Homo sapiens: one gene and its partners. The protein of the gene in region 2 purifies or fractionates together with the protein of the main gene of each other region. This does not show direct contact. Each region holds a gene or a part of one and is shown on either strand. Other genes may lie near its edges.

Region 1 (3,500 bases), on a different chromosome or scaffold from region 2:
AATGGTAGTTGCCAGGGGATGGGAGGTAGGGGGAAATGGAGATAAAATTTCATTTTTAGTAGATGAATATGTTCTAGAGATCTACTGTACAACATAATGCCTAAAATTAATAATACAGTATTGTGCACTTAAAAATTTGTTGATAATATTTCATATTAAATGTTCTTACCATGAAAAACTAAAATAAATGAACACAAGGAAACTTTTGGAGGTGATGGATATATTTAATATCTTGACTGTGCCAGTGATATCATGGGTGTATGCATATTTCCAAAATCATGAAATCGTATATGTTAAACACTTTGTATGACAGATGCATCCGACAGCATTAACTCAAGCATACCCTGAGAATGACTGTATGGTCTAAGAAGAATATGTGTTCAGAGTCTAAGCTAAGGAATCCGGGAATGGCCAACCCAGAGAGATTCACTTCTTATCTGTGAAGGACACTTGAACTCCCTGCCTGTCCGTTGGAACTCAGGATGTGCAAGGAACCAAGGCCTTTTATTTTGGGTTAAATGGAGGTTGCTAAGTGGAGAGTGCTAAGTAGAAATGTTATATAAACTACATACTCTTTACAAATAGTAGCGGTCCTGTCCAGCCCACTGCCACTGGACCACATCTGTATTTAAGTCCTAAATAAACCCTATGTCCCATTCACTGGCTCTGGGTCTCTTCTTGGACAAGGCGCCATCCCTGTTGGAATCAATAGGGCTCCAGCATGACACATGTGCAGGATTTTTTAAATTATATCAATTATATCTCAATAAAGCTGTTGAAATTTTTAAAGGGCCTGACCTGTCCTGGAATGGGGAAAAACTTAATGTGACAAAAATGTAGGTTATAGTGAAGGGAACAGGAAATGGTACTGGGACCATTTTTACTCCAGCTAAAAAATTTGAATTTAAGAAATTTGGATATAGATAGGAAGGAGCTAATGTTAAGCAGGAAGTAAGTTGATAAGAGTTTTCTGTTAAATGTGATGGCAAAGCGGTAGGTGAGTATGGGCTCCAGTGGGACAGAACTTGTGGCAGAGAAACCAGGTCAAAAGTTAAAGTTGGATTTGGTGAGTAATTAAAGAGAGTAGTAGCATTTCCAAGACAGAAATTAATGAGCTTTGCTTACATGAAAAGATTAAGAGGATAAGCTTAAGAACAATAAGTACCATAAAAATGGGTGGCAATGATGATACATTAGGGGTGGAGGACCTAGGGTCATAAGGTTGCCCGTGGCGACTTGGAGTGAAGTGTTGAGATGATATGCCCATTTCATGGGGAGAAGTAGAAAGAACAGAAAAACCACTTTTACTTTAGTTCTGGTGTAACTATGAAGAAAAAAAAGCCTAATTGAGGACAAGAATAGACCTCGTTTCTATGGGCAACAGGCATATTCTGCTCCCTATTTCATTATTTCGCTTAAAAAACACTTGGTGAAGACTTGATGCAGATTGTCCTCTTGGAATCTCTGATCCTGATGTTTATTTAAGTGGCAGAGTGGTGGCTTTTCCATGGTATATAGTCAGATTCTTTTTTTTTTTTTTTTGAGGTGGAGTCTCACGCTGTTGCCCAGGCTGGAGTGCAGTGTTGAGATCTTGGCTCAATGCAATCTCCACCTCACAGGTAGCTGGGACTACAGGCACCTGCCACCACGCCTGGCTAATTTTTGTATTTTTAGTAGAGATGGGGTTTCACCATATTGGTCAGGCTGGTCTTGAACTCCTGACCTTGTGACCGCCCGCCTCAGCCTCCCAAAGTGTTGGGATTATAGTCGTGAGCCACCGTGCCCGTCCTAGAGTCAGATTTTAAATCTTCAAATATTCAAGACCGGTTTATTAGCTATTTGAGGTTGTGAACGCTTCTCCTTCCTTACAAGTGCAAAGCCTAACTCATTGAATGTGTGGATTACAAAACAAGAAAACATTAACTTATTGCAACAGAGTCTGGTTTAATTAATAAATCTTTTTGGAAGTTTTCTTTGACAGATCCTACATAAATAAATATAGTTTTAAAAGTGGACTTTTAAACATCAGTTTTTCCTTTCCGTCATGGTTTTCCTACGACAAGGATAAAAGACCCCTCTTCCTTATTTGAAAATTCTCGCAATCAACTAGAACTGAAATTATGAACACCAACTCTGTCAAAACTATACTTTTGTTACTTCTTGGTGAGCAAGAGAAATGAAGAAAACAAAAGAAAATCATGTGCTATTTTAATGTAATTTATCCTATACTTTTTTCAAAAAGTCACACTCACGTCTGCTTGAGAGTTTTAGAGGAATATAATGTATGAAAGAAAATTCCAATAACATAATGTACAAAAATGTTGTCACATACAGAAGAGCAAAAATCTACGTATTGGGGACTATTGCTGTGGGAAGAAGGGCCTGATCTTCATACTCATCTTCCTCATTGAGTACCATGACCCCTTCCAATTCATCCATACTACACCATCATCTGTGCCATGCTTTGCCATGTCCCAGGTGTACTGTCCACCCCAGTAGTATCTGCCGTTTGGATTGGCTGCATGACATCTATTATACCACCATCCACCACCGTCTTCTTTAGAACACTGTTTTCTGGGATCTGATGTTAACCTGAAAGAAAATGTGTTTGGCGTTATTAGAAACAGAACTACGGTGGTCAAGTTACGTTTTGCAGATTACCCATAAAAGACTGCTACACTCGTGTGCACAGTAGTCTTTCCTTTGGGTGCTATACATAGAGTCACACTAATACACCAAAGACCTCCTGTGCCCTATAGCAAGAAAGAGAGATAACTGGGCCTTTGTGGCCAATCCATCTAGGGACTGTGTTTGTTACTTTATACTGGAATAATAGCTTTTACAACCCTTAGTATCAGAGAACCCTGGAAATGAAAATGAAAGTTTTCACACACACTTTAGAATATAGAGATATAGGTATTTATCTAAATGCTCATTATTCAGAAAGTAACTGTGCTCAAATTCTAGTTTTATCTCTGGGTAGTTGTGTGACATTGGACAAATCACGTAATCTCTCTAAATCTCATCTGTAAAATGAGAATAAGAATGTCTACCTTATAGTTGAAATGCTTTCGAGTGATGCATAAAGAGCTTAGGACAGTGGCTGACAGTAAGTGCCCAGGAAGTGGTAGCTATTAAAAATATTGTTAATGATTCTGAGTAATGATATTAGTGTGATTTTTAAAGCAGGAGCAAAGAGTGCCACACATACCAGCCGTCATTGTCTCTGTCATACGTGCTGAAGAACATGCCGTTGTGAATGGTCATGGTCCTGTTTTCTCCCATCAGCTGAGATGCTCCATCCATGAGGGCATTACCGGCTGTTCCTCTGTATTTGTTCACTGAGATCTGGTATTTGTTGGCTTCATTCTGTACAGTGAATCCTCCATAGTGAGCCTTTACTTTGTCTCCTTTCCAGTCCTCCATTTCTATCAAAAGTTCTGTGGGTCCCATCCTGGTAAGCTGGCTAATTTTATCATTTCCAAGCCAATATTCACCTA
Region 2 (4,284 bases):
AAAGAAGAAGAAGAAAGGAGGCAGACAGGAAGGGAGAAAGGAGAGAGAATATGAGAAGGAGGAAGGGAAAGAGTGCTGTGCTGGAAGCCAAGTGCCTGGACACCAGTTAAGCCCAGCAGAACACACTGTGGTCATGGCGGTCACAGCCAAGCAGTACAGGGAGGGCTCAGGGTTCAAATCCTGACTCTGCCTCTTACAGGCTGCCTGAATTTGGGCAAGATACTCAACCTGTCTGTGCCTCAGTTTCCTTATCAGCAAAGTGAAAACAATAAACTCTGTTCAGAGGGATACTGTGAGGACTAAGTGAGCAAATAAGTATAAAGCCCTTAGAGCAGTGCCAGGACAGCAAGACTCACTAGGTGAGGGTGACATCATCATCAGCATTCCTTCTTTTCCCACATCTGCTGGAGATGTAAATGTGACTCTGAGATTTACATGAGGTAGGCTGCATGGCATCGCCTCCCCTTAACAAAACAGAAAACTTGAGGCTGACAAAAGTTAGTCTGCCCAAAGGGCCATGGCTACTGGCGACAAAACGCTTATTAGAATCTAAATCTCCTGGCTCCAAGGAGAGCAACGAACTTTCTGGCGAATCACCTCAGCACCACCCATCATGGAAATGTCAGAGAAGGGGGTTGTATGTAGGGCATGGAGACAGTTGTCCACATCTTACCATCTCCTTCTGTGCGCAGTTTGTAGTAGTTCTTACACTGGTAGCGAACCGAGTGCTCCACATAGCCATGTGCAATCTCGGGGGGCTTCGGGCAGCCGTCATCTGCAAAGAGAGAGAAGCCAGAGAGTTTGCTATTTGGAAATTGTTCCCAGTGAACCGTGAAAAGTCAGATGAGCGGGAGCTGCTCTGCACATCAATCTCCTTCCACCCCGAATAGAAGCCAATGGAAAGGCAAGCTCCCCTCATTTCTGGCAGGAACCCCAATGTTCTTTATGGTCCTGAAAGCCCAGAGGTCGAGATAAGAAGGGGGAATTGGGTGTTCTCAGAGAGAGTGCAGACCCGAGAGGGTCAGAGTGGGATGCACACTCCTACCCAACCAAAGACTGACCTGCGATATCCGTGACATCATTGCCTGAGTCCACTGCAAAAAGCTGTCCCCAGAGCAGGAGGGCAATGACAGCTCCCAGGGCACTGCAGAGAGAAGACAAGGAGGAGTGGAAAGCTAGTCTCCCTGCTTCACAGCACATGCATGCATCCACACACACATGCATGTACACACACACACACACACATGCATACACACACACTCCTCCCACTTAGCAGCCAGAAAAGAAAGTCGATATATGGAAGTGCTAGGACCAAGAAATTGCCCCCACACCTGCCCATACACACTTTAGCAGCTTCTGAGCATACCAAGCTTCCAGCAAGCCCTGTCCTGCTGGGAATTCTGCAGAAGCTTCAGAGAGGGATAGAAAGGCACATAGGTGGAGGGGTGGGCTCAGTTTCTGGCTGCATTCAGGAAAGTACATTGGCAATAATACAGGAGCCCTCCAGGAAAGAGAAACCTCCCTCAGACACCGCAAAGATAGTGGTAATAAAATGTAGATAACTCAGAGATGGGAACTTTGGGCTTACTGTGCTATTCCTCTACTTCTTGATATTTTCCGTAATAAAAGGTTCCTTAAATATATAATTTTAAACACGTGGGTATTTCTAGTATTTTATAATAATTCACCTTTAGGAAATGGTATCTGAAACCCCAAAATGCCAGAAGGTTACCTGGAAGAGAACTGGTGTCCAAAAGCAGGACGGTGGCCATGGGCATTGACCCACAGGTGCCGTCTGCCAGTTCACCATCTCACTAACAAATGCCAACCATTCGGGCACTACTTGCTTCTATTAAAATAGTTTCTAGGCCAGACACGGTGGCTCATGCCTGTAATCCCAGCACTTTGGGAGGCCAAGGCAGGCAGATCACGAGGTCAAGAGATCGAGGTCATCCTGGCCAACATGGTGAAAGCCCGTCTCTACTAAAAATACAAAAATTAGGTGGGCATAGTGGCGCACGCCTGTAGTCCCAGCTACCTGGGAGGCTGAGGCAGGAGAATCACTTGAACCTGGGAGGTGGAGGTTGCAGTGAGCCGAGATCATGCCACTGCACTGCAGCCTGGTGACAAAGCGAGACTCCATCTCAAAAAAAAAAAAAGTTTCTAGTCTTATTATTTCAACATTTCAAAAAGTGTTTATTTTTATAAGATCTAAGTGCCTTAATTAGATGTATCCCAGGTATTAGTGTGTATCCCAGGTACTAGTCAATTAATTGTGTCATTCAAATGTGTTACTATTAGTCTTCCTTATTGTACATTTTTAAAGAGGAAAATATCTGCTAATAAATATACTCAGGATGCCAGGAAGCCTACCACGGGAGCTGATGACATACCCTATAAAGTCAAAAATGTAACCTGAAGGAAAAAGACACTCCTGAGAGTAAATCTTATCTCCTGGGAAAGACAGCAGCACTGTCTTCTATGGATGCAGAAAAGGAGAAGATTTAACACACTAAGCCCTTTGGTTCACTATAATTTAGCCCATTTGCCCGTTTCTTTGTTCTATTTCTGCATCTCTACCGATGTATGCAAAAAAGACTGAAATAAAGAACCAGAGGAAAGGCAGGAGGGAAAGCTGTGGACCCACCTCATCTTGGTTGGTCTTGCCTCTGGAAGAGCAGTGCTGTGGGGCATCTGCTGGTCTTTTTATGCTGCCACTAGCTCACTTCTCCCCCTTCTCCATTTCGTAATTCCTGTGTCTACAAACTTTGGCCCTGGTAAGGTCACTATCTTTTCCAGTAACAAAACCACAAACAATACCCCTGTTAAGAGTTGAGCTCTTGCTTCACACTTGATTTTCTTGTGATGTTCTATTACAAATCCCAAGAAACCTGGCAACTCTATGACCCACAAACCTGCCAAAGTATTTCCTGAAATCAGCAACTGGGCAGGACAGGGCGGCGGCAGGAACCATCAATCTGTCTCTTTATCTTGGAGGATTTTCACACTGCAGAAAGGCTCATTTTGAGTTTTTTCAAACCCATTGTAGACATTTCTGCAGCCTAGCTTAGGTGGGGCTCTAAAGAAAGTACTTCCTTTTCACAGTAATTTTCTCCACCTTGTGTGTGGCCATCTCCCTATTGCTTAAAAGCTCTCCAGCCTGAAATCAGTAAATGTGTTTATTGTGTCTTCTCTGATTGCTCTTTGCAAGAAATCACACAACTAGTTAAAGCTATAGTGTAGACTGACACAGACTATACTCAATGGCAGTGGTTCTCATGGTTTTATAGTCTGGTGATTAGCCTAAATAGGCAGATGAGAAAAATCAATATGTCTCAGTCAAATGTCTGCACCTGTGTGTATCCCAGGTACTAGTCAACTGAAACTTAGTAGCAACTCAATACAAGGTTGATTTATTCATTAAAAAGGGTTAGTTGTTCTTAAATTAGAGTGTACAAAAGAATTACTTTTGGATAATCATGGTGACACTGATATAATAGCAAAGTAACTAGAAACAAGACAAATGCCCATCAACAGGAGGAAGGGTCAATACTGCATTGTATGTGGATATAATGGAATATTATACAGCATAAAATGAATAAACTCTGCAAGAACATGGATCATCTTATAAACATAATTTTTGAAAGAAAACCGCAAGTTTCAGAAGATTACCTTCAGTATGATGGCAGTCTTCTAGAGATCAAAACCAAGTAAAACTTGGCAATGGATTCTTAGATAATGACACCAAAATCACCAGCAATCAAAGAAAAATTAGATAAATTGGGCTTCATCGGAATGAACATTTGTGTATCAAAAGACAGTATTAATAAAATGAAGACAGGCCAGGCGTGGTGGCTCACGCCTGTAATCCCAGCACTTCGGGAGGCTGAGGTGGGCGGATCATGAGGTCAGGAGTTTGAGACCAGCCTGACCAATGTGGTGAAATTCCATCTCTACTAAAAATACAAAAATTAGCCAGGCATGGTGGCGCATGCTTTAATCCCAGCTACTCGGAGGCTGAGGCAGGAGAATTGCTTGAACCTGGGAGGCAGAGGTTGCAGTGAGCCTAGATCGCACCACTGCACTCCAGCCTGGGTGACAGAACAAGACTCTGTCTCAAAAAAAAAAGTGAAGACAGTCTACAGAATGGGAGAAAATATTTGCAAATTCTATATCTGATAAAGGGTTGTTATCCAGAGCATATCCTAACTACAACAACAAAAAGACAAACAATTAAAGCATGGGCAAAGGATTTAAATAGACATTTCTCCAAAAAATATACAT
Region 3 (3,500 bases), on a different chromosome or scaffold from region 2:
GTTGGTAGGAGTGTAAATTAGTTCAACCATTGTGGAAAGCAGTATGGAGATTCCTCAAAGAGCTAAAAGCAGAACTACCATTCGACCCAGCAATCCCACTACTGGGTATACACCCAGAGGATTATAAATCATTTCATCATAAAGACACATGCATTTGTTTATTCATTGTGGCACTATTCACAAAAGCAAAGACATGGAATCAACCTACATGTCCACCAATTGTAGACTAGACAAAGAAAATGTGGTACATATACACTACGGAATACTATGCAGCTATAAAAAGGAATGAGATCATGTCTTTTGCATGAACATGGATGGAGCTGGAGGCTATCATCCTCAGCAAACTAATGCAGAACAGAAAACCAAATACCACATGTTTTCACTTGTAAGTGGGAGCTAAATGATGAGAATTTATGAAGACAAAGAAGGAAAAAACAGATACTGGATTCTACTTGAGGGTGGAGGTAGGGAGGAGGGAGAGGATAAGAAAAGATAACTATGGGTACTGGGCTTAATTCCTGAGTGATGAAATAATCTGTATAACAAACCCCCATGACATGAGTTTACGTCTGTAACCAACCTTCACATGTATCCCTGAACCTAAAATGAAAGCTAAAATAAAGCTAAAATGTGTGTGTATATATATATATATATGCATATATATACATATATGCATATATACGCATATATATACATATATGCATATATACGCATATATATATGCATACATATGCGTATATATGTGTATATATACGCATATATGTATATATACACATATACATATATACATATATGCGTATACACATATATATGAATATATATGTATATATACACATATACATATATACACACACACCACACATATGTGTATATATATACACATATATACACATATATGTGGTGTATATATATACACATATACACATATATACATATATGTACATACATATATGAATGTTTTTAAAAAGGCTGCGTCTAGGTTGGTGGGATTACATATAGGTTTTTTTTTGGTTGTTTGTTTATGTTTTTCTGTATTTTCTAAATTTTGTATAATGAGTATTACTTTTACAATATATACACATTTGTAAAAGTTTTAGTGCTCATTTTGTTGTCCCATTATTTGTTAACTGTATTTAAAGAAATGTGTTAACTACAATGATATTTAGATTATAAAATATCAAGAAGTTACATATTATTTAAATTATGAAAGATAATGAGAGAAAAGTTGAAAGAAATCTTTTATTTTAACACTTCTATAAGTTAGCCATATTTCAATGATTCCATTTGGGAACCAGTGAAGCATGTGTCTTATCCCCTTCCTTTTCCTCTCTCCTATTTGTGCCTGGTTATTGTTAGGTTCTCCTTTCTAGATTTCTCCACCAAGTGATGGCAGAGGAAAAGTTAACCATTCTTTTGGATATAGGTACAGTTTCTCTCACCACGTTTCACTATTTAGAAAAGCAGAGCTGCCTTCAATAAGACTAAAACTATTCAATTGCTGTTAATAGTCCTATTTAAAATTTAAAAACACTTCTCATACATTCCTTTTATTTAACTGGTAAATTTGAAACAAAGAAAGAATGGACAACTAGTACATATCATCTCTAGATTTACCTCTTGGTATAATCCAGAGCAAGTCTTCTCTACCCTTCCGTTACTAGGAATAATTAAGAAAAGACTATGTTTTTGGTTGCAAAACATGGATCTAGAGGTCATATTTATTCATATTATATCTCTAAGACCCAGAGTTAAAATTGACAGAGGTTACAGGATTAGTGGTAGATGCTAAATAATAATTCTTTAGTAATCATGCACAAATAGATTTAAATTCATAACTTAGATCAAATTAAAAATGTAAAATTAGATCAATAAACTGTTTTTACAAAAGTCCATAGGGATGCATGTCTCATATTTCTACTTCTTATGTGTTGATATTATGAATATACCTTGCTGAGAATTATTTCTGGAGCCAAATACTCTGGAGTTCCACATAATGTCCAAGTTCTGCCTTTAACTCTTTTGGCAAACCCAAAGTCTGTGACCTATAAAAGAAAAAAAGAATACTAGTGAAAATGTATTACCTCACAATAAATGTATTTATTGCACCTACGTTGAAAGTTTAAAATTCAAATTGAAACTATGAAAGAAATGGAAAAAAAATTAAGTCCACGTAATTGAAATTCATTCATGAATATCTAGTGAATGAAAGTTTAAACAATCCAAGTTGGAAATCCTTCCTCAACTCAAAGAAAAGGAACAAATTAATAACAACAAAACTCTTTTCAGTCATTATTATAAGATCCTAGACCCAAGGAATAAAAAAGTGAAAATAAAAGGTAAAAATAAATAGCATTAATAAAAATGAAACAATGCTAAATGTCTGCCTTACCCCAATGTGTCCTCTGCCATTAGTTGCACCATCAGAAGTGTAAAAACGTCAATGGGAGAATCTATCAATAATTGTGTAAAAAGAAATGCTCCCACTTTATTAGTAGTAGAAGTGGAAAGAAAACGTTGCTACGAGTTCAGTATTGGTAGTCAGGGATTCTTTGGCAGTTATATTGTAGTCGTAAAGGGCATGGACTCTGGGATCAGACTGCCTAGGTTCAAATTCTGACTCTACCATTTATTGGCTAAATGACCTTGCTATGTCTTAGTTTTGTTAATCTTAAAATGAAGATAACAATGGTATTTCCACTTCATAGGTTTATCAGGATTAAAGAAATAATACATGTAAAACAAGTGGAATATGCCTGGCACTAATAACTGCTCATAGATTTAGCTATTAATATCTCCTTATGCAAGAGGCTATACTCAGTTCACAACTATAGATTAATGGAGATATAAACAAGTTCCTTTCATAACAGGATTTTTGCTTCTCTGTAATAGCAGCAAAACTCTGAGCTCTACTTAAACTATTAGGAGAAAGTGTCTTCTTCAAAAAAAATTCCAAGTTGGGGTTACATACATACAATGTCTTGCCTAGTATTTTCTCATATACAGTACACATAATGTGTTAAAGTCATACCTGGATATAGCCTTGATGGTCAATTAAGAGATTTTCAGGTTTTAGATCTCTGTAGATGAGGTCTAGTGAATGGAGGTACTCGAATGTTAGCACTATCTGAGCTGCATAGAACCGTGCATGGGGCTCACTGCAAAGAAATAAAACCATTGATTTTCTGTAAAAATGAGTTAATACATTCTAATTAGTAGATTATGCATAAAAACTAATATGAAGTAGAGGTACTTTGGGAACAAAAAGTATTTTTTTAAAAAGTATGTAAAGAACCTTGTTACTTTTCAAATATTTATTAAATCTCTATATTTTGTTCAAATAACGCTCTGATAAATTTATGGGGAAGCATATGTTGAGGAAAAATATAAACCTAAAATAGTTAGCTCATTGTGAATCATTATTGCCCATATTTAAATATATTGATGTCTTTCTAATTATGTCTGATCTTGAGAATAATTGGAAAGCAAATGTGCCAAATGGA
Region 4 (3,500 bases), on a different chromosome or scaffold from region 2:
TTGAAGACGACCAGTTGCTTCACCCTCCTGCTTTGCCAAGGCTCTTACCCTTTTCCCATGTGCTCTAGGCTTTTCTCCAGTCTGATCTGCGTTTCCATTCACCTCAGGGCTTCCTGTGCAACTGCTCACAGGCCTCAACTTTTGGCCATGCCCACTCACCAATCCCAGCCACACTCATTTTCCATCCCATTTATTTAGACCACACCATTACATATTCATGCTATCACACTAACCTGCCAGAGTCCAACAGACATTCACTAGAGAATCAAGCAAGACAACAGAGATGGTCTCAAGTGATGTGGTAGACGTCTTACTTTTTCTTCAAGCCTCAGTCTGAGCTGTTCCTATGTCCTCACCCTTTTTCTAAGCAGAAAATTTCACTAGAATATAAAGTATTGATTCACCACCTGCACATATTACTGTCTGGCCATCTCTGCTTTTACTTATTCTCATAAGCTGCAAAATAACATTTTCTTCTCTTTTCCACACCCCTTTACAACCTGCTCTTCCACCAGTGGTCAGTGCCCAAAACCTTGGGGTCATGCTTGACTCCTCTCTTCCCTAACACTCCCTAGTGCCCATTTTCCAGCAGGTCCTTTTAGTACCACCTTTAAAATGGAACCAGAATATGATAACATCTCACCACTTCAGCCGCTTCCACCATATTCCAAATCTCGATGATGATGATGATGATGATGATTTTACCCAGATTATTGCAGTGGTCCTTAACTGACCCCAGATTCTGTCCTTGCCCCCTTAGGGTCACTTAACCACACATCACCAACAGCCCCTTAAAAGGTGTCCATCAGAACATCAGTCTTAAATCTCGAGTCTGAGGTCCTCCCTACTCCATCTGGCCCCTGCTCTCCCTGGATCTCATCTCTAGCATTCTGTCCCTTGTGTGCTTTTCTTTAGCCTCTGGCTGCCTTGCTGCTGCTCACACACACCAGGCATTGCTCCTGTCTTCGGGGCCTAGAATCAATTCGTGCACAATTACCTGAATTTCATTACTTCTCAAACTTTAGGTGTTTTCAGCAATGCCACCTCCTCAAGGAAGCCCTCCTGACCTCTCTACCTAAAATAGCACCCTTGCTACACCCTGCTAAGTTATTGAGAAATAGTATTTTCCTGGAAGCCAACTTTACAACTAATAGAAGAAAAATATGGTTCTTATTAAAGAAAATGCTCACCTATGTATATAATCTGTTCAAGATTTTACTCTATGTTTATTAAAGAAACATTTGATGATCTCCTAATATATGCCAGATACTGTACTAGATAGGGGGAATTTAGAGTTCCAAGTGGCAGCCTCTGGCCCTTAGAACCACATGTGCTAGAGACAGGCATGGGAACATCCAGCCACATATGGTGTGGTAGATGCCATTTGAGCTGTGTTCTAGCTGAGCGAGGAGACAGCATCTCTCTGATTCACGCTTGAGGATTCATAGATGTCTACTACCTTCAGGTTTTTCTCTTAAGCTCTCCTGTGGACTTTTTTTTTTAGTACAAGCATGTGCATGTACTTGCATACACACAGACACCTCCTTGCATCCCCTCTTCACAACTACCTCCCTTTTCACTTTCTTGGTCCAGACTCTCTATGATGAGAGTAATCTGTGGAAAGGCTGTACAGCCTGTTAAAATGCACCACCCCCACCCCCGCCCCCGTGAGTACCTGGTAATGTTGGAGTAACTGTAGAACTCTCTGTTTGTACCCCATGGGCATGTATTGAGTAGGGCCTTGTGGCCATGTTTTTAAAGATAATTTTGACTTTGTCTCCAACATCTGCATGAAGTTGTGGACCTGGCAAAAGTGAAGAGGAAGAGTGTCCAATCAGAAGGTCTAACTTAGTAATAAAAGCAAAGATCAGCAAAGATAACTTGTTTCTCTCCCCCATGGGTTTGTGGTATAATACTCTTGGATTTATACTGCGTCCCAGGGAATTTGGAATCAATACACTGGAAATAAAAATGGAGACCATTTGTTTATCTCTTAAGAGTTCTAGGGGAGGTTTGGCCTGAAAGTCCTTTGCAGAGTACCGGTCTAATCATGGTGGGTTGGATATCTGGCCAGGAGTCATTTATACCCCTCTCATTTCTACCCTTTATCCAATCTTAGCTTGTCTCTTGTCTGGTAGGATTTTTGTGCTCCAGCAACAATGCCATTTTGCCTTGGTGTCTTAGTCTAGGGGTTGAGGATAACCAAGCCTCAGGGGAATGCTGACAGTATGGGAACACAGTGGGGTGGGGATGGGAGTGGGGGTCCCTGCAATTGATAGTTTTAAAGAAATGTCTCAAGACCAGTGTTGCTCGAGTTCTAGACATTCTGTCTTAAAGTGAGTCCTAAAAAATTGAAGGCAGCTTTGCCCCTGCTTTGTGCGTGGTATCATTTTTTCTTTTATTTCCTGTTGTAATTAATTTCCTTTTGTATATTTCTTCTTGTAATTAATCATTTATATTTTAATTTTAAAAGTAAATAGCTGTAATTTGAGAGGAATGGGTAGGATAATGGGGATAAATTGGTTAAGAATTTTATTAGGGCCAGGTGTAGTGCCTCACGCCTGTAATCCCAGCACTTTGGAAGGCTGAGGTGGGCGGATCACTTGAGGCCAGGAGTTTGAGACCAGCCTGGCCAACATGGTGAAACCTCATCTCTACTAAAAATACAAAAATTAGCCAGGCGTGGTGGCCCATCCCTGTAGTCCCAGCTACTTGGGAGGCTAAGGTGGGAGACTCACTTGAGCACAGGAGCGGCAGGTTGCAGTGAGCTGAAATCACACCACTACACACCATCCTGGGCGACAGAGTGAGACTCTGTCAAAAAACAGAATTTCATTAGAAAATAGTTTCTGGGAACTTCACTAAAACTACAGGCATCAATTTGATAAAATATATATAATTTCATCAGTATACGGGACAATACATAGTTTCCAAGAGAAATAAGTAATATTTTACTATGTCATATTATTTAATAAACATCAGTCTTATTTCATTAGATAACTAATTTTTAAATTTTTATTTGAACAACTTTGATATATGAACCAAGAAAATGAAACCCATAGACATGAATTGACGGTTACTGCAGGTAGCATCACATCATTAACCCACACCTGATAAACTGGAGATATTAACATACCTAGAATTCCCAGATGTTCTTCTTCAGCTTTTCTCTCCACTGGAACACGGAATGTGCTATCAGTATACTGCCGATACACAACTTTCTTGTACTTTGAGCCTATGTAAAACTCTCCCTTATCTAAAAATGCATTTGAAACACTTAAAAAAAAAAACAACTAAGGTTAGTATTTGTCTTAATGAAAATGTAACTTAAGTTTTAAACTTTAAATTTTGAATAAAAATATAGTTTTTATTAGAGTAATTATAGTAGTTTTAAATCATCACTCTTCTATCCAAGTAGGAATGCATAATAAGACTTTAAAAGTCTGTGTGGTAGAAAGCATACCTAGCCATCTGAGTGCAGCCATCTGAGTCCTGGCCTC
Region 5 (3,500 bases), on a different chromosome or scaffold from region 2:
GGAGAAGTGCTAACTTTTCAACTCAAAGAAAGAAGATTGTTTCACGACCAAGGTCCCTTGATTCAAGTGAAGAAGCAATCTGTCTTTATTATGAGAAACTGGGGAGGTGGGGCCAGGCCAGACTCATGTCAGAAGGCCCCTCAGTGAGAAGCGAAGAAGCAATCTGTCTTTATTATGAGGAACTAGGAGGTGGGGCCAGGCCAGACTCATGTCAGAAGGCCCCTCAGTGAGTGCAGCCCAGGAGACTGGTCACATTCTGGGGTTGCGGAAGGGCCTTGGCTGCATTCAGTTTCTCCACATCACTGTAGCAGTACAAATTGGGACCATGGATGAGGTACAAGCCGGGACCATTGGCGGAACATGAGTTAGGGCCAAGGGACTTTTCCATACACAAGGCTCCGTCTACCTTCTCATGGGGCCAAGGAAGCTCTGTCCACGTGGCTTGGGCTCCTGACTTCAGGTCCAGCCACCACAGCCGCCGTCCTGGGGAGAAGGCACCAAACATAGCATGGCTTCCATGTCATGGGGATCCTGACCTAGGCCTTCTCATGCCCTGGGGATCCTGACCTAGGCCTTCTCATGCCCTGGTGGGGATCTATGCCACAGACAGGTAGCAGAACAAGCTGCCCTCTAAGCACCCAGAAGCCCCTCACCTGCCATGATATGGAGCCGAGAAGACCCAGGGCAGATAAAGGCCGCATCCACAGAGTCCAGGATAATCCCATGAGGGGTCCCGACTTCCTTCTCCAGCCGCTTCGGATAACCGCTTACTAGGGTATAGCCTCCCTTTGTCAGGAAGACATATACCTGGGTGCCCTGGAGGACAAAGGATGGTAATAAATACAGAGTTGGATATGCTTGTCCCAGTCTCTACCTCAAGCCTCTCCCCCAATACACACCTGGACCAGATAGAGTTTTTCTTCCCAGGAAAAGGCAGCATCCACTGCTGAAGGACCCTGGGGCCACTGATGAGCAATGGGCCAGCTATGCCAGCCATCCCGGCTGGTGTCCAGACGCCAGTAGTGGGTCCCTGTGGAATACCATAGGTTGCTCTAGGGCCGCTGGCAGAAGCCCAGGCAGAGAAGAGGCTAGTGATGAATGCAGAAATGAGTCATGAGAGGGAGAGAATGCATCCAGAGGCCAAGATGGAAGAGGCCAGGTGAGAAGGAGAAATAGAGCAAGACTTGGTCAGCAATGTTGGGCACTGTGCCCTGGCTGAAACTGGAATCAGCAGGTGCCTGAAAGAAAGGCAAGTGTGGAAAACAGTGGCTAAGTTTCCAGGTAAGGCCAACATCATGGGGTTGGCGGGCACTCCCTAAGGATTTCAGGTGTCCATGTACAGAGATGCGGTTATAGATAATGAAATACAGTGTCCAGAACTTAAAAAGGAAGCACCACTTCTACTGAATGTTCTCACTCTGGCTGTGTTCTCCAGTCTCTCCCTATGAGGTGGTGGAAGAGTGAGGGAGTAGCTGGGCTAGCACCCCGTTTTTCTTCTCCTCTTTTCACAACAACTTATTAAGGAATTATCTAGGCTCCCATTTGTCTTTTTTCCTCAATCCTCTTCAATTACACTTCTGTTTCCCTCAACCATTGAAATTGTTCTTATCCAGGTTGCTAGTATTCTCCAATTTGCGAAATCTCATGGTCAATTCTCTGTTCTCATCTGACCCTACCTCTCAGGAGCACTGGACTGCTCACTACTTCCTTCTCCTTTAAATGTCTTTTTTTGGAACTTGGCTTCTGTGACACCTGACTCTCCCAGTATTCCTCTTATCTTTTTTGACTACTCTTTTCTTCAACCTGATATCTAAATATTGGAATCCCCTACTTTGGGCCTCTTCTCTTCTCTCTCTACCTTCACTTCCTTGGTAATCTCACCTAGTCCAGGGGCTTTAAATGCCATCTATATGCTGATGACTTCCAATCTGTTCTCGTCAGCTCTGACTGACCTCTCCTTTGAGGTTTAGGCTCCAAATCAGCTGCCTACCTGACATGCTTATGGGGTGCCAATAGGCACCCAAAACCTAATATGCCCAAACTGATTTCTGCCCCCCACCAACACACACACTCCCTAGTCTTTCCCAATTTTAGAAAACAAAACCACCAGCCACTCAGTTGCTGAGTCCACGAAAGCTGAGTCATTCTTGAAGCCTCTTTTCCCTTCCCTACTCTGACTGATATCATTCATTCATTCATTTATTTAGAGACGGAGTTTCACTCTTGTTCCCCAGGCTGGAGTGCAATGGTGCAATCTCGGCTCACTGCAACATTCACCTCCCAGGTTCAAGCGATTCTCCTGCCTCAGCCTCCCAAGTAGGCTGAGATTACAGGCATGTGCCACCATTCCCAGCTAATTTTGTATTTTTAGTAGAGACGAGGTTTCACCATGTTGGTCAAGCTGGTCTCGAACTCCTGACCTCAGGTGATCCACTCGCCTTGGCCTCCCAAAGTGCTAGGATTACAGGCGTAAGCCACCACACCCGGCCTATCTTAGCTATTAGTTAATGCTGTCAGCTCTACCTCCAAAATATATCATGGTGATTCCTCACCACCTCTGCTGCTATCATCCTAGTCCAAGCGGTCATCACCTCTAATTTGGACAACTGCACGGATTGCTAGCTGGATTCCTTGCTTACATGCTTGTACTTTTATAACTTATGTTCTGCAAAAAGTCAGAGTGATCTTTTATAAAAAATGAGTTAGAATATATCACAGCCCTGCTCAAGACTTTCTGATGACTCCCTTTTATGGTTGAAAACCCTTACCAGGTCTAGGTAACCTGGCCACTGCCGTCCCTGCCCTTTCAAGTCACCCACCTGCTCTTTCTCTGTGTTCCAGCCTCACCAGGCTTCCTTCTTGATTCCTTGAAGTATGTGCTGCTCACCCTCCCTAAAATGCTTTTCCTCCAGCACATCGTGTGGTTAATTCCTTCTCATCACTGAAGTCTCAGCTCAAAAATCATTTCTTCAGAAGACAGCCCTCATTCTCCTCACCTCTATCCCACTATCCTGTCTTATTTTCTTTACAACCCTTAATATTACCTAAAATTATTCTCTTTCTTCCTTTCTCTTTCTTATTGTCCTCTCTCACTTTAGCAGAGCCTGTCAGGGCAGGCATCTTGTCTGCCATGTTGACTACTGTATCTCAGTGCCTAGGACAATGCCCACTTCTTATCAGATGCTCAACAAATATTTGTTGAGTAAATACCTAGTGTTCTTGCTGCTACCACAAGTTCTCTTATTAGCCGTGTACTGAGTATACAGCGGTGACTGACATATCCACCTCCCCTGGGAGGTTTCCCACTGAAATTACCCTGCTCAGGAACCATATTTATTTTATTTTATTTATTTGTTTTTTGAGACAGGGTCTCAATCTGTCACCCAGGCTGGATTGCAGAGGCACAGTCACGGTTCACTGCAATCTCTGCCTCCCACACTCGAGCAATCCTCCCACCTCAGCCTCCTGAACAGCTGGGACTACTGGTGCATGCCACCACA
Region 6 (2,874 bases), on a different chromosome or scaffold from region 2:
GGCTGCTTTGGGAGACAGAACCCAGAAACCTGGCATACTGGCAAAAGGGTAAGAATTTCTTACCAGCCAGACTCTGGTCTCTGTCTCTCTGTGCAAACTGCATAAATGAATAGTAAAAGTCACTGTTTATCTCCTCTGTAAAGTTTTGATTAATATAAAAAAAGAATTCTGAGGCCGATCTTAAGCTGTAGTGAATCTGGTGTGCTTTGTGTCTTTCTGTATTGTTTTGTCATAAAGAGGGGTACCTTAGAATAAAATGTGTGCTTAGGACCCCATAGACCTGCTGTTCAAGACACACCAGCAGACTGGTCAGTCATGTCTTTGGGAGCTTGACCTTGTAACCATGTGGCCATGCTTTCTCTTTTCACAGTGGCAGCCTGGGTTTAGGGTTCAATTCCTGGCTTAGGGAATGAGTCCTTTATCTTCTGTCTGTGTATTTATATGTGTTGTGTGTGTACTATAAAAGAGCATTAATTAATTAGCTTAATAATAATAAGAGCTTAAATCAAATATTTTATCAGAAAAGTAAAAAATGTAATGCCTTCTATTTACTTCATGTAACTTAAGTAATCTTTGGGAAATAAAGACAGTTTTAAAGATTATTGGTAAAATAAAAATATCTTCAAAATGTAAATATTTAGTCTAAATTATGCAGGTCAGATATTAGATTTGCAAAATGCTTTAAGGTCATAAACCGCTTCTTTGACTTTTAAAAATTGCTCAATTTATTTTGGAGCATTAGATTCTAGATAAGGCCTGGGGACAAATAGAATTAGCCATGTCCCCTAGCTATGCAAAGAAGGTTATAAAGAAAGGAGATTTTATATAAGAAAGGATCTTATATCGTAAATTCGTGTCCTAAAGTAAAATAAGCGGTTGTTAAAAAAGAGGGATGTTTAGGACAAGTTAGAAAGTCAAAGCATGTCGTAGATGGTCTGTGTAAGTCATGAAATAATTTACAAAAGAGAATTTATGCAAGAAATATACAATTTAACGGTGATTAGACCTCCTAAATGCTTCATAAAATGCCACTATGACTCTTAACTCTACAACTTGCCTGCTTTACAGCTCGGTAAGGCCTGAGACACGTGGAGTCAGATGCTGGAGTCAGACCTTAAGTGTACTTCTCTCTGGGTCCTAGACTCCACAACTAATATATAATTAAAATCCTTAACTTACCAAAGTTTTCACCAAAAGTAAAACTCGCTAAGAGTTAACATTGTAACATGTAAGTGAGACTACTGAAGCAACAGTTTTACATGCAAGTTACGTAAGAAAAGTGAATGCATTTTCAGTGAAAGATTATAACAAGGCATGGGAATGTAGATTTTTTTTTCTGTCTAAAGGGTTAAAGGATTGTTTTAAGTTAGGATAAAGCTAAAAGTTTGAATGAGTTGTGGAAGATTTATAAAAATTAATATTGTAAAAAATTATGTGTGTGAACATATTGACTAAATTTAAAGGGGTATTTTCTGGTTTTTCCATAAATTGAACATCAAAATAAAAGCACAAACAGGGTTTTCTTAAAGCACCGATCTGCTCTTTAACAAACATTTGTAAAGGATTATAAAAGGTTTATGAGAATCTCACCTTATGGTCAAACGGATTAAGATTGGAAAGATATGTCTACAAGGTTTTCTTAAAAATTGGGGTTGACATTAATAGCACACTAATGCAAGGGTGAAATTTGGCTTTCTCTCTTGAACAAGATTTTCATGCAGTATTAAAAGATAATGAAAGATCTTTGTTTGCCTTTTGAATAAACTACCCCCCCACCAAAAAAAAGGAAGGGAAAGACAAGAGACAGATTGTTTGTAAAGTAAGTCTTCCATCTATCAACATGGAAAGGTTTTTGCCTTTTAAAACATTTTTGAGTCATCATTTTGCTAAATGAATGACTATGGTAACCTGGAATTCCATTTCATAATGTCAAGTGTTTTAAATCTTTAACATATTTAATAGGCTTCCCAAAATCAAATTTCAGCTTCAAAATTGTCTTTTCTAACCTCTAACTTTGAGATGCTGCAGAGGGCCCCTGAAGCATCCAAAAGAGAGGTAAACAGAATTATTTGACATGTTTAATTACATGGGAAGCATTGTCAAAAAGAAAAAAATTTAATCTTCTTCAGGTTATATTTTAGTGAATAATATTAATATATGTTCCAAAATTGTATGAGATTTCTAAAATTCCAATATGTCTGAGTATATGCTATCAATCATAATTATGATTATTATGTTATTGTAGACCACAGAAATAACCAAATTTCCTTGTCAATTGTGTTTTTAACTATAACTATTTAAAGTCATTTCCACAGTTAATTGCTTAATGCTGATGCAGTTTCTGAAAACTTCACAAGCATGCAAAGTCCTAGAATATGGTGTCTTTTAGGAGATTCATGAAAGATTGGAAAGGACCCTAAAAAGCACTCTTGAATACAGGTTTCTAATAAGTTTAGAATTATATCATTTGAACTGGGTAAGAATTCCTGGAACTTTAATGAAAAGACTGACTGAGTTCTAAAACTGCTAACCCAAGTAGAACAAAAATTAATTAAATACCAAGAAAATACTTTGCCAGATTTTCATGCTAAATCAGCTGATACTGAAACTGTTTAGATATAAAATTTGAATAAACTCCATCATTTAAATCAAATTACCTATGATAACCCATCAGTTATCAGTGTTATGCACCTAATTTGGGGAAACAACTGGTATTCAAGAGGATATGAGTCTAATGTTAATTAAGCATGAACTCATGGAGAACCAGGATGGCCACCTTGTCCTTCCTAAGTCGTTAAAGCTTTTGTTAGTAAAATTTCTGCATTACATGACTCGTCACGGAAAAGATAAAATGATCCAAATTGAATATATTGA
Region 7 (4,164 bases), on a different chromosome or scaffold from region 2:
AAATTGTTCAGTAACTCCAGCTGCCTGAACAGAAATTACTTTCTGAGGAGCTAGAAGCCCTGACTGGAAAAGAGCTCTGGGGGATTATGGCATGGGAGGAGAGCTGTCAGGCATCAGGCTTATGTGGGAAGGACCCACGCTGACTACAACAGTACAAGTAACTGCCTGAGTGGCTCCATAACATGGAAACAGCAATCGTATGTTCCAAAGACAGAGTTACTGTTTTAAGGACAGAGGAACCTTTGTATAGATTCTTAGTGAAAAGCTTATTTTAAGGATGTTTGCTGAAACTCCATGTTTTTCACATTTCTTTTCAAAAGAGCATTGTCCTTCATATATAGTACATGAAAAATTACAATATTCATGTTTTTTAGATACAAAGTCATATACAAATAGAGGAGGAATAATTTCAAATTGCAAACCATACCAGCAAAGAAAGAGGGAAATGAGACTCTAGATATGGATTTATTAGGTGACAGGGATTCTTTTCTCTATATTTTAATATATTTTCCAAGTTTTGAACCACGGGCTAAGGATGGGCCTGTTCTCTGTCCTGCCTAGAAACTGACAGAAGCATGGGTGACCAATCCCAGACATGCTTGGCACTGCTGAGTTTTCATCTCTGTTGTAATCTTCTGACACCTCCTTGCAAAATATCAAGTGTTATATGCTAATACTGGCCCTCTCTTTGTTGAAGGAGAAAGCATGTAAAAAGACAACTGTCCAAACCCTGTGGCTACAAAGTCTTTTTTTGGCTTCCTAAGAGATTTACTCTATTCTTCTATTTCTAGAACTTTTCTAAGTTGGAAGATTTCAAATGTGAGATAGTGTTAGATCCAGGTTGAGTAAGGATTTTATAAAATACTAAATAATGATCAGAGATGGGAATAATCAGCCTAGATAAAAGCATATTCAGCAGGATGTCAAAATATACCAGATCCTCATATAAACAGCATGGATTACATTAACAGGCCTCCCTGGGTGAGTAGCGTCTCTTTCGCCTACCTTACGCTCACCCCATGGTTATATAACCTTTTGAACGGAATTTGGAAATTCTTCTGACCCTGTCCTGCTTGCTGATAGAGTTGAGCCAGTGGCTGGCAGGGGCATAATCTAATAGGCGAAACTGGAAACACACAAATTCACAGTCCTCTTGTCTTAGCCCAGAGACTGTACAGGCAAGGAAAGAAAGACTCGCCCCATCTCCCTCCTCCCCTCCTCTGGCCTAAGTTGCCGCTGACTTCACCCAACAGGCACCTGACCCTCCCAGATGAGCTGGGAGGGGCTAAAGCCTGGTGCAGCCATGGTAGGGGTGGAGGTACAGGCAGCAAACAATATTTAAGATGCTGACTTGTGGAGCATTCGGGCTTGGAAGGAAAGCTATAGGCTACCCATTCAGCTCCCCTGTCAGAGACTCAAGCTTTGAGAAAGGCTAGCAAAGAGCAAGGAAAGAGAGAAAACAACAAAGTGGCGAGGCCCTCAGAGTGAAAGCGTAAGGTTCAGTCAGCCTGCTGCAGCTTTGCAGACCTCAGCTGGGCATCTCCAGACTCCCCTGAAGGAAGAGCCTTCCTCACCCAAACCCACAAAAGATGCTGAAAAAGCCTCTCTCAGCTGTGACCTGGCTCTGCATTTTCATCGTGGCCTTTGTCAGCCACCCAGCGTGGCTGCAGAAGCTCTCTAAGCACAAGACACCAGCACAGCCACAGCTCAAAGCGGCCAACTGCTGTGAGGAGGTGAAGGAGCTCAAGGCCCAAGTTGCCAACCTTAGCAGCCTGCTGAGTGAACTGAACAAGAAGCAGGAGAGGGACTGGGTCAGCGTGGTCATGCAGGTGATGGAGCTGGAGAGCAACAGCAAGCGCATGGAGTCGCGGCTCACAGATGCTGAGAGCAAGTACTCCGAGATGAACAACCAAATTGACATCATGCAGCTGCAGGCAGCACAGACGGTCACTCAGACCTCCGCAGGTAAGGAGACCAGTCCCCTGAGGGAGCGTGGAGTGCCTCCCCATCTACAGCACTGCTTCTACATATCCTGGTCATCAGAACCACTACTGGGGCCTCTTTTGTGGGTACACTTTCCCTTTAGTAAAGGCTTATGCAGTATTTCCTTTGACTTCTAATGCTATGTAAGTTTACCTAACACCTTCACGGGTCTCTTTTATCCACACAGTGTTTCAGCCTACCATCTTGGAGTGCTGAGATACTACATGGTTTGCCCAAAGTCACCCAGCAAGTCTTAGAAGCAGGGTTCAAGTCTTCCTGATTGGTGTAGCTCTGCTACTTCCTCACCAAGAGCTGACAGGCTATATCTCAAGAAATTCCAAGGAAGCACCAAACTGTAACAGCTGTTCCTCTGGAAGCAAAGTTTTGCCAGAAACAGTTCTCTGGTGTTCCTAAGATTTACCAGGAATGAGCATTAATGGAATTTTGTGTCCTCTCTCTGTAAACGTAACTCTTCTCATTGGCTCAGAGTTAAGTGTAGAGACACATAACCATGTGAAGAGTCCCTTTGTGTTCAGGAAGGATGCGGCTCCTTAAGGTTCCTCAATTGTGATACGTCTATTTTTTTCCATGGTCTTAAATGAATTTCTCCGAATACAGGATTTTTTAAATGCAATGCTGAAATATAGACTTAATAGGCCAAAAATAAGATAAATTTAATCTTTCTTTTGCAAAATAACTTTTATTTCTGGTTAGCTCAGCTCAGGTGGGCCAACATGAATTTACGGTTTAGAGATAAAAATTTGGTTTTCTGAAATTATCAGGAAAATATTAGTTGTAAGGAGCATATCCTATAGACATGTCATTTCTTGCTGATATAAAAACCATTGGTCCCATTATAAACTACATGAAGAACAAAGACATGATCAGCTTCTACTGACTAAGTCAATGGTTAACCTCAGCTCAAATTAAGAAAAAGTTTTAACATGAAACCAAGCTTGAAAATTCTGTTACCTGAACCAACATGTATCAATCACTTTCTAAGCATGGACTTCCGGGCCCTCAGTTTGGGATTAGAAAGGTATTCTCAGGCCATTTTCCAGACAAGTGAGTCCTGATTTGGTCTGTGAGATGAAACCAGACATGCGGAAGACCAGGCCAGACAGAGGAATCTGACCGTGCCACTTCCTGCTCATCCAAACAGGAGGCTTTCTCACCATCCTGCAAGGAGGTTCTTGGGGTCAAGTGCAGCTCTCCCACCAGGTCTCTTGCTCTTCTTGCCCAGGACATCATTCCTTATTTTTCTTCTCTATGACCAAGTGCTCAGTTACCCTTATATTCTATAAGTAGGTAGTCCCTTAGAGGAAGCAGTAAGTTGGTGCTTTCACCACTAAGACGAAATGAAGAATAGTGATGGCGAAGGCACACGTACTCTACCTCCCTTTCCCAAGGTGCTCTGCAAGAGAACCTATGTGCCTCAGACAACTCCCATCTGCCATCTTGGTGCTCCTCTCTAAGGTCCCAGTGCAGTGGTCACCAAGAAAAGCACCCCGAGACATAGCAGGCAGGAAGCTTCTCTTGGATAGTAAGGGCCGCAGTCTCTGAATCCTATCAGAAAAGGCTGTCTCTTCCACTATGCTCTTTGATATTTAGAATACAGAGCTTAAATCCTGCATAAAGTAGCAGCTCCATGGCCCTAGAGTAAAAAAACTGGCCAGTCTGATGCTCTCATTTCATTGTTTTAACAAAACTTCTGGGAGGAAGGCCTCAAAGGTTCTTCTGAGTGTTTTGAGGTGCTAGCTGGATGGAAGGGGAAAATATGTGATAATAAAATCTATCTCCCTTAATTATGGTCTCAGGTGGCAGTAGCCACCATCTCTGAACAACAACAAAAACAACCAACCAGGAAACATCAACAAAACCAGACTCTATGAGATATTCACGACTGATTTGTTATAGTGGCGGCTGTCTAAGAAGTCTGAATCTATCTGACAGGAGTATCTGTTACGTGGCCCTCATACACTGTAACATTTCTAGAATTCATGGCCCAGCTATAGCAGAATAATTTATTTCAGAGTTAACCTGAAACCACCTGTTGGAACGTCCCACTAATGCTATCCAGGTGAAGGGCTTCCCTACCCCTCTGCTCCACCGCTAGTAAAGCCAAAATACACCCCCTCTGGATCTCCCCATATCCACCTCTCCCAAATGCAGACACTGATG

What was found.
Region 1: the proteins of HP (region 2) and FGB purify together in Homo sapiens (affinity purification with mass spectrometry, with the first as the bait; one large-scale study listed by BioGRID). This does not show direct contact.
Region 3: the proteins of HP (region 2) and PRKACB purify together in Homo sapiens (affinity purification with mass spectrometry, with the first as the bait; one large-scale study listed by BioGRID). This does not show direct contact.
Region 4: the proteins of HP (region 2) and CP purify together in Homo sapiens (affinity purification with mass spectrometry, with the first as the bait; one large-scale study listed by BioGRID). This does not show direct contact.
Region 5: the proteins of HP (region 2) and HPX purify together in Homo sapiens (affinity purification with mass spectrometry, with the first as the bait; one large-scale study listed by BioGRID). This does not show direct contact.
Region 6: the proteins of HP (region 2) and TF purify together in Homo sapiens (affinity purification with mass spectrometry, with the first as the bait; one large-scale study listed by BioGRID). This does not show direct contact.
Region 7: the proteins of HP (region 2) and ANGPTL7 purify together in Homo sapiens (co-immunoprecipitation; one large-scale study listed by IntAct). This does not show direct contact.

Annotation. Positions count from the first base shown.
Region 1 is NC_000004.12:154,569,511-154,573,010, reverse strand, and holds the end of FGB (fibrinogen beta chain isoform 1 preproprotein), read right to left. Parts: intron 3,498-3,500; coding exon 3,212-3,497; intron 2,593-3,211; coding exon 2,361-2,592; 3' UTR 204-2,360; downstream 1-203. UniProt on the Homo sapiens protein: Cleaved by the protease thrombin to yield monomers which, together with fibrinogen alpha (FGA) and fibrinogen gamma (FGG), polymerize to form an insoluble fibrin matrix. Fibrin has a major function in hemostasis as one of the primary components of blood clots.
Region 2 is NC_000016.10:72,053,021-72,057,304, reverse strand, and holds the start of HP (haptoglobin isoform 1 preproprotein), read right to left. Parts: upstream 2,801-4,284; 5' UTR 2,653-2,800; coding exon 2,648-2,652; intron 1,145-2,647; coding exon 1,062-1,144; intron 776-1,061; coding exon 674-775; intron 1-673. UniProt on the Homo sapiens protein: As a result of hemolysis, hemoglobin is found to accumulate in the kidney and is secreted in the urine. Haptoglobin captures, and combines with free plasma hemoglobin to allow hepatic recycling of heme iron and to prevent kidney damage.
Region 3 is NC_000001.11:84,196,271-84,199,770, reverse strand, and holds part of PRKACB (cAMP-dependent protein kinase catalytic subunit beta), read right to left. Parts: intron 3,156-3,500; coding exon 3,029-3,155; intron 2,043-3,028; coding exon 1,947-2,042; intron 1-1,946. UniProt on the Homo sapiens protein: Mediates cAMP-dependent signaling triggered by receptor binding to GPCRs.
Region 4 is NC_000003.12:149,180,330-149,183,829, forward strand, and holds part of CP (ceruloplasmin precursor), read right to left. Parts: intron 3,277-3,500; coding exon 3,137-3,276; intron 1,805-3,136; coding exon 1,676-1,804; intron 1-1,675. UniProt on the Homo sapiens protein: Multifunctional blue, copper-binding (6-7 atoms per molecule) glycoprotein. It has ferroxidase activity oxidizing Fe(2+) to Fe(3+) without releasing radical oxygen species. It is involved in iron transport across the cell membrane.
Region 5 is NC_000011.10:6,430,988-6,434,487, forward strand, and holds the end of HPX (hemopexin precursor), read right to left. Parts: intron 1,031-3,500; coding exon 900-1,030; intron 817-899; coding exon 654-816; intron 484-653; coding exon 224-483; 3' UTR 62-223; downstream 1-61. UniProt on the Homo sapiens protein: Binds heme and transports it to the liver for breakdown and iron recovery, after which the free hemopexin returns to the circulation.
Region 6 is NC_000003.12:133,791,393-133,794,266, forward strand, and holds part of TF (serotransferrin isoform 1 precursor), read left to right. Parts: 3' UTR 1-2,874. UniProt on the Homo sapiens protein: Transferrins are iron binding transport proteins which can bind two Fe(3+) ions in association with the binding of an anion, usually bicarbonate.
Region 7 is NC_000001.11:11,187,991-11,192,154, forward strand, and holds the start of ANGPTL7 (angiopoietin-related protein 7 precursor), read left to right. Parts: upstream 1-1,364; 5' UTR 1,365-1,589; coding exon 1,590-1,965; intron 1,966-4,164. UniProt on the Homo sapiens protein: Has a role in the formation and organization of the extracellular matrix.